3 separate regions of the Homo sapiens genome follow, and regions 2 and 3 are each linked to region 1. Evidence: fine-mapped expression QTL. A gene starts in region 1. Each other region holds a variant in brackets. All regions are shown on one strand. Distances are from middle to middle.

Region 1 (4,229 bases):
TGTGGACGGCTGTCAGACCCTTCTAAGACCCCTTGCCACCTGCTCCATCAGGGGCATCTCAGTTGAAGAAGGAAGGACTCACCCCCAAAATCGTCCAACTCAGAAAAAAAGGCAGAAGCCAAGGAATCCAATCACTGGGCAAAATGTGATCCTGGCACAGACACTGAGGTGGGGGAACTGGAGCCGGTGTGGCGGAGGCCCTCACAGCCAAGAGCAACTGGGGGTGCCCTGGGCAGGGACTGTAGCTGGGAAGATCCTAGGGGAGGGCCTGATGGTCCCTGAAAGGCAGGGGAGACCTGGACGACTCCCCCTAAACCAAGAGCGCACCCTAGAAAGTCAGCTCCCCAAGGTGGGGACCGGCCAGCTCATGAGGGGTGCTGGTTGAGGGGCCTGCTTGTGCAACGGAGGCCACCCAGCCAGTGAAAGCTACTTGGAAGGGCTGGGAAAGGGTCTGAGGCCCCTTCAATCTGGCACCACCAGACTCCCATGCACTCCATTTGCCCCTGCCCCATTCTCAGGAAAAGGGGCCCGGCTTGCCCAGAATGACCCCTGGTGGCAGGGGGCTCCGCCTCAGGGACCCCTTGAGCCCCAGCCAGCTGCTTGGTCCCCAGCTTCTGCCCACCCTTGGGGTCGGGGCTAGGAGGTTGGGGTTAGCTCCACAGGGGTGAGGAGAACCGAGCCTGGGACTGCCCAGGCATCTAGCTGGGTCAAACCTGAAAAGCCAGTTTCATCCTTGAATCTTCTCCCGGTCTCCAACAGGAAGTCCCGTTGGCGGGTGGGAGTTCCCAGGATAGGAGAAGGGCCTCCAGACCTAGGCCCCACCCACCGGGACAGACACACACATTCACCATCTCAAGCGGCACACACAGAAGAAACTCTGGTCAGGACCACCTCGGTCGGAAGCAGGCCCTGGGGGGCCAGGGAAGATCCCCTGCCCATTCCCCGCCCAGCCCCACAAACATGCCCCCAGCATGACAGACAACCAGGCCCTCTGCCAATGCCCTGAGCATCTGGGGTCTGGCTGTCACCCCAGCCGGGAGAAGGCCTGTCCCCGTTGGCCTCTGCGCACAGAGTGAGAGTCTGTCTTCGGGAGTCGCTCCCAGCCCACCCTGGAGCTTCGAAGTGTACAGATGGGGGAGTCAGTGTCGTGGGGCAGAAGGCGGAGTCAGTCCCCCACCCCCAGCTCCACGGCTCCTGCTATTCCCATCGGTGAGGGCAGCCGGGACAGGGACCATCCCGCCCTGGGCTGGAGTTTCAGCTCGGAGACACCACCCGCCGGTCGTGGCCGGGAAGGAAAATGCAGCGGGGGGAGTTCAGAGGAACCTGGGGCACCCCCGGACTCTAGACTCCCGCTCCTGGGACCCTCAGCTGTTGGGCGGGGGCTGGAGCCGAGCTGTCCCGCCCGGCCAGGCCGCTGGGGCTGCTAATCCGGCCACGGGCTATTTTTGCGGCGCGCCGGGCTAGGAATCCGGGGCTGGGCCGCCTCCGCGGGCGACTCGGGAAACTCCAGGAAGAAAAGCCCGGCCGCCCCGGGGGGGCCTCGCCGCGACCCCTCCCCGGCCCCGGCCCCGGCCCCGACACGGCCCCGGCCGCTCTGAGCAGCTCCGGCCCCGGGTGCTGAGGACTCGCCCCGCCCTCCGGACGCAGCCCCGGAACCCGCCCGCCCCCGGAGCCCTGCGCTCCCGGCCGCGCTCACTCACTGCCGCCGCCGGGGGCTCTGGGGGGTCCTGAGGGCGCCGGGGAGGAGGCTGCCGCCGCTGGCCGGGAGGGCCCGCGCCGAGTCCCCGCCCGCCCGCCGGTCCGGCCCGCCCGGGAATGCCCTGGAGCGAGGGGCGTGCGCCCGGGGGCGGGCCCGGCCGGAGCGGGGCGGTCGCGCTGACTCAGAGCTCAGGAATGCGCGCCGCCCGCCTGCCCGGCCCAAGTCACCTCCTCCCGGAAGGCCGCCGGGCTCCCTTCTCCCCAGGGTCCGCCTGCGGGGACACCTGGGGCTGGGGTCTCCAGCGCCTCGGCCCGACGGAGGACCTGGTGGGAGCGGACCGCAGTGTCAGCGCTGGGCGGCTCCGCCTCTCCCTGGCTCCAGATTGAGGCTTGAGCTGTCCTGCCCTGATTTGTGCTGAGAAGAGGGTGAGGAGGGAGAGCAGGCACGGGGTAAAGGGCGGAGGATGGGTGTGTATCCCTGGCTCCCCTAAACCCGACCTCCTCCAGAGGCCCACGCTGACAAGTCCTGTATCCCACACTCACCCAATCCCACTAAGCACTCACATTCCCTCACACACATTCATGTGCACCGATCACTCACAATCATACACACACGTCCCCACATCCTTCCACTTCATGCGTTCATTCGCCTGCACATGCACGTGCTCACATGCACCCACCTACTCATGTACATCTTTCATGGGTACATACACGTGCACACACACACGTGTACACACCGATGCACACACTCAGTTCAGGACCACAGTCATTACCCCTCCCCCTGCCCTGTGCCCCTACCCCCAGAAGCCCCGCTCCACCAGCAGGCACTCAGGCCAGGCTGCACCGGCCCCACCCGAAGCCACTCAGCAGAGGCAGCGCAGTGTCTGGTGTCCACTCTGGGCTCTTCTCACTGTCTCAGAGCTCAGCGGCCACCCCGGGGTGGGCTCATATCCCTGCACAATCTGGGCTGGACTCAAAATGGCACTCTGCTTTCCGCTGGGGCTGCTGGTGAGAGTTTCCCAGCATTTCTCTCCTGACACTGGGTGGGCTGACCCTCCCAGGGTGGGGGACAGGGGTGCCAACAGCAGAGTACGGGCAGGGCTGTCCAGGAGCTCTGAGTGGTGGGTGGCCAAGGCTTCCTCTGGATAGAGGGTGCAGGGATCCCTTCGTCCCATGGGTCCCTAAGGACCCCTCTACAGGGTGCCCCCCCATGCCTCGGACAAATGTGTCTTCAGGCCCTGTGCTGGTCACAAGGTGCTGCTGCTTCAGTGCCATCCTCTGGGTCTGGGTGGCACCAGCCCTCTCCAAACTGAGCTGTTGCACTTGAGGGCCCGACGCAGACAATGGCCTGCTCCTTGGCTAGACAGAAAAGGGGAGAATTTGAACTAAAGGTGCTGGTACACTTACCGGTAGATCCCAGAGCCTGGGCAAGATTCCCCTGCCCATATCCTTGTCCATGCCACGGGATAGGGCGGTGCCTGCACATAATGGGTGCTCTCTGAACACAAGCAATATCAACACAATTCTCATGTAGAAGGAGACAATGGAAGCTTTGGAGGGGGTGGAGGGTAACTCCACCAGGGGATGACTGCCAGTGCATCACGGACACCGGGTGAGAGGGAGCCTGCCCCAGTGCCAACACTCAGTGCTCCGATAGCCTGCACGTGCCACCCCTCCCATGCCAGGCTCACAGCCAGAGACAGGACAGTCTCCATGCTTAGCATTATTGACCTGCCAGGGATAAGCAAGCCCTATCGGGCCTGGATGCCCAGACTAGGCTGGCAGGGCCAGAAGTGGTGTCCTCTCTGGAAAGCTGGGGACTGGGCTTGCCTCCAAAGCATGCCACAGCTGGGCATCTGGTGTCAGCAGGTCTCCTCCTGCAGTGGACTCTGTCAGACCCCACCTAGACCCGCTCCAAGACCCAGACACTCATCGCCAGCTGCCAGGAGCACCAGTCACAGCTGGCTCAGAGCTGAAACCCCCCGCACCCAGGAGTCACCTTCAGTGGGGAGCATGCCCCAGTCTGCCTCTGCAGGCAAATCCCCAGCTCAGAGCCTGTGTCCAGGAATCCCCAGGCTCTCAGCCCACCCTGGCCTCCTGAGTGAGGTCATCAGAAGGATGATCAGAGGGGGGTCGATACACGTGTGCTCAGTGTCAGGCCTCTGAGCCCAAGCCTGCACGTATACATCCAGATGAAGCAAGTGAAGAATCACAAAAGAAGTGAAAATGGCCGGTTCCTGCCTTAACTGATGACATTACCTTGTGAAATTCCTTCTCCTGGCTCAGAAGCTCCCCCACTGAGGCACCTTGTGACCCCCACTCCTCCCCGCCACAGAACAACCCCCTTTGACTGTAATTTTCCACTGCCCGCCCAAACCCTATAAAACGGTCCCACCCCATCTCCCTTCCCTGACTCTCTTTTCTTCGGACTCAGCCCGCCTGCACCCAGGTGAAATAAACAGCCTTGTTGCTCACACAAAGCCTGCTTGGTGGTCTCTTCACACGGACGCGCACGAAACTCAGGATTGTAC
Region 2 (4,229 bases), 34 kb before region 1:
CTCCGACTCCTGGGTTCAGGTGATTCTTCTGCCTCAGCCTCTCAAGTAGTTGGGATTACAGGTGCACACTGCCACCCAGTTAATTTTTTTTGTATTTTTAGTAGAGACGGTTTCACCGTGTTGGCCAGGCTGGTCTCAAACCCGTGACCTCAAGTGATCCACCAGCCTCGGCCTCCCAAAGTCCTGGGATTACAGGAGTGAGCCACCATGCCTAGCCTCTATGCCTTCTCTCTCCCTTTTGTCTTAAATAAAGACCCATCCCAGGATTCTGCCCCAGGAAGGTGGACGAAAGTGGCAGTGGGGTATCGATGCAACAGACAGCACTTCCAGAGCTCTGTTGTACCCCTGTTCCAAGATGCCTCCAAGCGAGAGTACACCAGAAGGGCAAAGCCCTCTATGCTGGAGTGTTAGGCCTGAGCCCCAAGATTCCTGGGGTAGCCAGAGGCTGGCTGGAGATGAGGGGCTGGGTGTCAGGAAGCTCTTGAGTGTGGGAAGGCTACTGACGCCCTATCACCCTATTTGCAGCTCCAGATGATACACCAATAGCTTCTAAGCAGGAAGCAGGGCCAGCCTGGTTACACAAGACTGACTAGTGTTAAGGAGGAGAACAAAAACAGACATACACACAGACTACAGCATGCACGCCTTGTTTTTTCTTTTTTTTTGAGACAGAGGCTAGAGTGCAGTGGCACGATCTCGGCTCACTGCAAACTCTGCCTCCTGGGTTCCAGTGATTCTCCTGCCTCAGCCTCCTGAGTAGCTGGGATTACAGGTGCGCACCACCACTCCCAGCTAATTTTTGTATTTTTAGTAGAGACAGGGTTTCACCATGTTGGTCAGGCTGGTCTTGAACTCCTGACCTCATGATCCGCCCGCCTCAGTCTCCCACAGTGCTGGGATTACAGGCATGAGCCACCATGCCTGGCCCAGCATGCATGCTCTTAAGGAACTCACACACTCTCAACAGGCAGTAGGCACTACTCTAACCCCACTCCTGCAGCCTACCCAGGTACCCACAGGACAGTCCCCTGTTAAGACTGATGATCGGGAAGACTCACCCTTCCCTAGAATGGAGCGTGCAGTCTGGCACCACCGGCCACAACATGAAACACCGTGGCAAGTTCTCTGCAGCAACGTCTGTCCCTTCTTGCAGCAGCTACTGGAAAGGTGGGAATGGGGAAGACAGTCAGCCTGCTCTTGGGATATCTGAGGGCGGGGTTGGAGTGACCACCAGGACCTGGGGAAGCACAGGCACAACAGCCACAGCTGAGAGCTGACCCAGGCCCCAGGATGGCCGACCGCTGCCCCAGCAGTGGAGAAACACCCACGTCGGTGTAGAATCAGGCCAGGCCAGCCACAGGCTAACCCAGGAGCAGACGGCTTGAGAGCAGGGAGTGGGGCGGCTCCAAGCTCAGCAGTCCTCATTTCTAGAAAGGGAGAGGGGATGGTAGGGCAAGACCCACATGTGACACCTGAGAGCTACAAAGGAGGAGCCCAGGACACTCCCTAGGGGAGCATTAGAGTGTTGGGTATAGCGACAAGGGGGTATGGCCATCTGAGGGGAAGGTCTCTGCTTTTCCTCTGCACTGAAAACTCACAGCTGCACCTGGTAAGCTGAGCAGGGCAGGGTTACCACCCTCCTACAGATAAGGAGACTGAGGCTCAGAGACCTAGGACCTGCCCAATACCTGGCTCCTGACACCTCTGTTCTTGGCACAT[T/C]CCCATCAGCTTCTACACAAGCCTGTGAACTTCCCGAGGGCAGTGCCTGCGAGGCACCACTCAGCACATGCCCCAGCAGAAGGCACCACAGTGCTTTACAAATAGGGTGGAGCTACAGGCAGATCTACCTTCCCCCATCCTTGACCACAGGACCAGGAAGTCAGGGCAGGTGCACACACCCCCACCCACATGCTCCGTGCTCCTCTGTGTCACCAGGGAGGCCTCACCACAGCTCAGACACCAGGTCACAGGACAGTTGTGAGAGCAAGAGGGGAAGCCAGTGTCTGCCACCTGGGAAAGAGCTGCCCCGACACCCCCAGTCCTGCTAGGGAGCCTGGCTGACATCACTGCCCAGGACACCCTCTCCTGCACTGGGTCTGTGGACATAGCCTCCAGCCCATGGTCACTCTGGGCCCTTCTTAGAGCCTCACCTGTTCCATGGCCTCAGCATCAAGGCCTGGCCCAGATGACCACTGGGCCTCACGGCCTGCCTGCCCTGGTTCCCTGGGCCACTGTGAAGCTGTGCGCTGCCCTGCAGCTAGACCCCTCCCTCAGACCACAGGCTCTGCCACACCCACGGGAGGGTCTTCAGGCAAGCTCAGCCATTCACCCTCCCTTAGCTGGGCAGGGTGGCCCACGCCTATAGTCCCAGCTCCTTGGGAGGCTGAGGTGGGAGGATCTCCTGAGCCCGGCAATTTCAGGTTGTGGTGAGTCGTTATTGCGCCACTTTACTCCAACCTAGGTGACAGTGAAACCCTGTCTCAAAAAAAAAAAAAAACAACTGCAGCAAGAATATTCCCAAAGATGAGACACTAATGCAGCAAAAAAGGAAGTGTAAATATGTGTTAAAACTGGCGGCGGTAAAAGCATGTGTGGGGCAGGAAAAAGCTTAGGTGGACAAATGTACGAAGCTTATGAAAACATAAAGTGCTTAAAGTGTATGGTTTTCACTCCATCATCATTATTATTATTATTATTATTATCATTATTATTATTGAGACGGAGTCTCACTCTGTCACCCAGGCTGGAGTGCAATGACACGATCTCAGCTCACTGCAACCTCTGCCTTCCAGGTTCCAGTGATTCTCCTACCTCAGCCTCCAGAATAGCTGGGATTACAAGCTGTGCCACCATGCCCAGCATGAGCCACTGCACCCAGATTAATTTTTGTATTTTTAGTAAAGATGAGGTTTCGCCGTGTTCGCCAGGCTGGTCTCGAACCCCTGACCTGAGGTGATCCGCCAACCTCAGCCTCAAAGTGCTAGGATTACAGGCGTGAGCCACTGTGCCTGACTTCACTGCATTATTCAACAGCAAGAACTCTGTGGGAAATATCTGAATCCATTATCAGTGGTGAATCTATTGACTCTATCAGTGGTGTCAATGGTATACTTCATTTGCTCTCCTGGATGTAACCAGCATTCACAGATGCACATTTGCAATTGATTTCAATGACAGGGAACACTAACTTTGAACCCCAATGAAGCAAAATGGCATCCACTCTTCTCAGTAATAGACCCACATTACAAAAATTAAACTCAATTATTATGTTTTGAATTTTGTCTATAATCACATTCTGAGGTTAAATTCAAAAAAATTAAATAAAAAGTATAAAATAAAAAAAATTGCCTATAAAAAACATATGGAAGTTACCAGCCTGGGCAACATGGCAAAGCCCTGTCTCTACAAAAAAATATATATAAAAATTAGGCCAGACGCAGTGGCTCATGCCTTTAACCCTAGCACTTTGGGAGGCTGAGGTGGGCGGATCACTTGAAGTCAGGAGTTCAAGCCCCGCTTGACCAGTATGGAGAAACCCCGTCTCTACTAAACATACAAAATAAGCCAGGCATGGTAGCACATGCCTGGAATCCCAGCTACTCAGGAGGCTGAGGCAGGAGAATAGCTTGAACCCGGGAGGCAGAGGTTGCAGTGAGCCGAGATCATGACATTGCACTCCACCCTGGGCAACAAGAGCAAAACTCCATCTCAAAAATAATAATAATAATAAATAATAATAATAATAATAATAACAACAAGCTGGGCATGGTGCGCACCTGTAGTTCCAGCCACTCGGGAGGCTGAGGTGGGAGGATCGCTTGAGCCCAGGAGGTCCAGGCTGCAGTGAGCTGGGATTGCGTTGGAACAGGAATTAAAAGAAATTAAAGAATGTGTAAGCAGAAACTCAGTTGTATGTAAGAAAACCCAGTTCCCCTGAGAAAGAGAAAGAGCTGGAGTCCTTTAAAAATTGACTGCCTGTTTTTCCGTGGCTAGTGAGCCTTATCTCTCCTCCTTTCCCAGGCATCGTGAAGACCCTGCTTCTCTAGCCGTGCAGCTGCAAGGTCACTAGACAGATAAACTCAAGTCGCAAAACATGTTTTTCTTTGAAAAGTGAGAAATGATGTAATGCATGTCTCAATTAATTAAATAACTACCTTCGTTTCTCACTTCTGTAATATGCTTCTCCCTGCACAGATCTCCCACCACCCCACAAAATACTTAAAAGGTAA
Region 3 (4,156 bases), 26 kb before region 1:
TGCCAAGAGGCCCCCTTCATTGCTGTGTGGACTTGGTAGATAAAGTGTTCTCAAGCCAGAGAGATGTACCAGATCGGCCCCTCGGGGACTCAGACATTGAATACTCTACTGATGGAAGCAATTTCATACTAAAGGGAGTCCACCAAGCTGGGTACGCAGTGGTGACTTCGGACTCAGTAGTAAAGGTGCAGTCTTTGCCTACAGAAACTTCTGCTTAGAAATCAGAGCTGATAGCTCTGACAAGAACTCCCTGGCTAGGAAAAGACCAAAAGACAAATATTTACAAAGATTCCAAATATGCTTCTGCCACTTTGCATGTTCATGAGGCTATTTACAAAAAAAAAAAAAAAAAAAAGCCTTTTAACTACTGAAAGTAAAAAAAAAAAAAAGCACAAGGAAGAAATTTTGCAGCTCTTAGATGCTGTATGAGCCCCAAAAGAGGTGGCCATGATGCCCTGCGAGAGGCACCGAAAAGCAAGAACACCAAAGGCTAAAAAAAATAGAAAGGCAAAAAGGCAAAGCAGGCTGCAGTGACAACTCCACCTTCTAAAGAGGAGGCCTCAGCTATGCCTCTCCTCCCGGAGATTCCCTCCCAGAGATCCCAAGCACCCCTGCAAATAAAAGGGCTTGGTTTGCCCAGAAAAATAAGAACTACATTGAAGGAGGACGGTAAAATTCTCCAATGGGAGGCCATACCTGAAATGGTGACCCCGATTTGTAGAACAGTTCCACCAAGGAACTCACATGGGAAAAAAAACAAACAGCACTAAAGACATTATTAAGGCATCATTTCTATGTGCCATGGCTCGCTGCTATTACTCAAGCCATTTGTAAACAAACAGTGTTTAACTTGTGTTCAGAACAATCCATAACAAGGGCCTGCTTGGCCCCCAGGAGTTCAGGAAACATGAGCCAGCCATGCCCTGTGAAAAGCTGCTTATGGACTTCGCCAAATTGCCCTGAAAGGGGGGCTATCAGTGCATGTGGGTGTTCATTTGCACCTTTTCAGGATAAGTCGAGGCCTTCTCCATCTGGACAGAGAAGGCACTAGAAGTGACTCAGGTGTTGTTAGGAGACGTTATTCCCAGATTTGGACTGCCTCTGAGATCAGACAATGGACCAACATTTGTGGCTGCAAGAGTTCAGGACTTAACTAGACTATTAAAAATAAAGTGGAAATTGCGTACATCCTACAGGCCACAGAGCTCAAGTACAGTGCACGAACCAGACACTCAAACAGCTGCTGAAAAAATTTTGTCAAGAAACTCATCTAAAATAAGATCGGGTCTCGCCCATGGTCCTCCTCCAAGTCAGGTACACCCCCACCAAACAAACTGGGTATTCGTCCCGTGAAATATTGTTCAGAAGGCTGCCCCCAATCATTAATCAAATTAGAGGGGATTTAAAAGAGTTAGGAGAGCTAACCCTTAGAAGACAGATGCACTCCTAAAGGAGTGACAATGCAAGAGATGCATGGCTAAGTATTAAAAAAAAAAAAAATGCCTATAAGTCTAACAGACCCAGTACACCCTTTCAAACCTAGGGTCTGTGTTTAGGTTAAAAAATAAAATCCAACCACTCTAGGACCCATATAGGATAGGCCCCATATTGTGATCAGGAACTGATCAACATGTTCAAACAATAAGAAAATAGTCATATTAAATGTAAAGATTGGTGGGACACAGTGGCTCACGCCTGTAATCCCAGCACTTTAGGAGGCCGAGGCAGACAGATTATCTGAGGTCAGGAGTTGGAGACCAGCCCGACCAACATGGAGAAACCCCATCTCTACTAAAAATGCAAAATTACCCAGGTGTGGTGGTGCATGCCTGTAGTCCCAGCTGCTTGGGAGGCTGAGACAGGAGAATCCCTTGAACCCGGAAGGCAGAGGTTGCAGTGAGCTGAATTCGTACCACTGCACTCCAGCCTGGGCGACAGAACAAGACTCTGTCTTAAATAAATAAATAAATAAAT[A/AAATAAAT]AAATAAATAAATAAATAAATAGTATCTTATACATTTAAAGCAACCCGAGGAAGCAAATCAGGGGAGGTTCAAAAAAATGAATAAGGGAGTAAGAATAGGAATAAAGAAAGAAATTGAAATCCCGGTGATTAACATTTTCGTAGCCTGTTCAAATGTAAGTATGTAGTCTATTCTGGGATCACTGTGATTTGGGGTTTGCTTTCTACCTCTTAAGCTATTTAAAACACTGAGAAGGCAATATTCCAACTTTCATTTAAATGAAATATTCAGAATTTTGATTAAAATAAATAATAAATTACACAAGTTTACAAGTAACAGTTAAATATTTAGGGACATGTACTAAGTTTTACAAACAGTACAAATATTTAAGAGTGTTGATTGGGAGTAAGGGAATGTCAACTGCCAATAAAGTGGAAGATGAAAGAATAGGACTTTACACAGAGCATATTTAGTTATGGGTCTCTGTCTCCTCCCCACACAGAAAAACTCCCAGACATTCATGACTTCATCCACCCTGCCTGGCAGATAGGCCATATTTCCTGACCCCCTGGCTCTTCACCTCAAAAGGTTTATCTTTCCACCACACTAGCAAAGACCCTCAGGACACACAACTCATACTGCCAGCTAAGCATCTACCCCGAGGGACAAGGCAAGCACACACTAGGGCAGCTGGGCCATCCTGGCCCTAATCCCTCCAGCGGTGTCCACACTGAGCATTGCAGCACTTGTAGAAGGTGGTCATCGGCTCATCTGCAGAGCGGGTCTGAAGCTGCATGAAGTAAGCACGAGGATGTTCGCATTTGGGACACGACTCTGGCAATGAGAAAAAAGAAGTGACCACATTTAAAAAAAGATGCTACTCATGGCTGTCAAAAGTAGGTATTACTTAATATGTGGGAGGCCAAGGCGGGCGGATCACCTGAGGTCAGGAGTTCGAGACCATCCTGGCCAACATGGTGAAACCCCATCTCTACTAAAAATACAAAATTAGCCAGGCGTGGTGGCGGGCGCCTTTAATCCCAGCTACTTGGGAGGCTGAGGCAGGAGAATCGCTTGAACCCAGGAGGCAGAGATTGCAGTGAGCCAAGATCGTGCCACTGCACTCAAAAAAAAAAAAAAAAAAAAAAAGTAGGTATTACTATAATATCTTTTTTTTTTTTTTTTGAGATGGAATCTCGCAGTCACCCAGGCTGGAGTGCAGTGGGGCGATCTCAGCTCACTGCAACCTCTGCCTCCCGGGTTCATGTGATTCTCCTTGCCTCAGCCTCCCAAGTAGCTGGGATTACAGTTGCCCGCCACCACACCCGGCTAATTTTTTTGTATTTTTAGTAGAGACAGGTTTTCACTATGTTGGCCAGGCTGGTCTCGAACTCCTGACCTCATGATCCGCCCACCTCAACCTCCCAAAGTGCTGGGATTACAGGCATGAGCCACCGTGCCCAGACTACTTAATATCTTTAAAGATGGTAAAGAACCTCCCTGCTCATTTGATCCCCCTTGACAAGGGTAGATCTACAAACAGTGATGTCATTCCCACCACGCTGTAACACTAAGGGAATCTGGGAGACCTGTGACTCACACACTCTCCCCCTCCCCTCCCTGAGTCCCATGGTTCTTCTCAAATCCAGCTGAAGGCTGGTTGGAAACGTAACATGGAAGGTGACTGTTTTGGTCCATTTTGTGCTGCTGTAACAAAATGCCTAAGACTAAGTAATGGTTAGATGGTGGAAGAGTTTTGAAGTAAATGCTGGGAAAAGCCTGCATTGTCAAGAATTGAGCATTAAGGGCCGGGCGCGGTGGCTCACGCCTGTAATCCCAGGACTTTGGGAGGCCAAGGCAGGCGGATCACGAGGTCAGGAGATCGAGACCATCCTGGCTAACATGGTGAAACCCCGTCTCTACTAAAAACACAAAAAATTAGCCAGGCGTGGTGTCGGGTGCCTGCAGTCCCAGCTACTCGGGAGGCTGAGGCAAGAGAATTGCGTGAACCCGGGAGGCGGAGCTTGCAGTGAGCCGAGATCGCGCCACTGCACTCCAGCTTGGGCAACAGAGTGAGACTCCATCTCAAAAAAAAAAAAGAATTGAGCATTAAGGGCGATTCTGGTGTGGGCTGAAAAGAAGAGAAGAGGCCGGGTATGGTGGCTCTTGCCTGTAATCCCAGAACTTTGGGAGGCTGAGGCA

The links. PIP is the estimated chance that this variant, and not a neighbour inherited with it, causes the effect.
Region 2: its variant is the best candidate, but not a certain one, in a credible set for the expression of RHBDF1 in monocytes (Quach 2016, PIP 0.71).
Region 3: its variant is the best candidate, but not a certain one, in a credible set for the expression of RHBDF1 in monocytes after LPS (Quach 2016, PIP 0.58).

Annotation. Positions count from the first base shown.
Region 1 is chr16:70,813-75,041 of GRCh38, forward strand. It overlaps RHBDF1 (rhomboid 5 homolog 1), which reads right to left and starts at 1,819. Exons shown (of 18, transcript NM_022450.5): 1 at 1,701-1,819. It overlaps LOC124903617 (a long non-coding RNA gene), which reads left to right and starts at 2,015. Exons shown (of 2, transcript XR_007064932.1): 1 at 2,015-2,124; 2 at 3,568-4,178. RefSeq lists enhancers at 1-396, 2,033-2,850, 2,851-3,667, 3,668-4,229 and silencers at 1,389-1,572, 1,819-1,878.
Region 2 is chr16:37,152-41,380 of GRCh38, forward strand. No RefSeq gene overlaps it. Among named protein-coding and RNA genes, the nearest start is that of POLR3K, 14 kb to the right of the region's middle. RefSeq lists enhancers at 1,489-2,036, 2,037-2,583. The variant T/C (reference allele first, on the strand shown) is at 1,720.
Region 3 is chr16:44,770-48,925 of GRCh38, forward strand. It overlaps POLR3K (RNA polymerase III subunit K), which reads right to left. Exons shown (of 3, transcript NM_016310.5): 3 at 1,638-2,788. The coding sequence ends at 2,661. Among named protein-coding and RNA genes, the nearest start is that of POLR3K, 6.8 kb to the right of the region's middle. The variant A/AAATAAAT (reference allele first, on the strand shown) is at 1,975.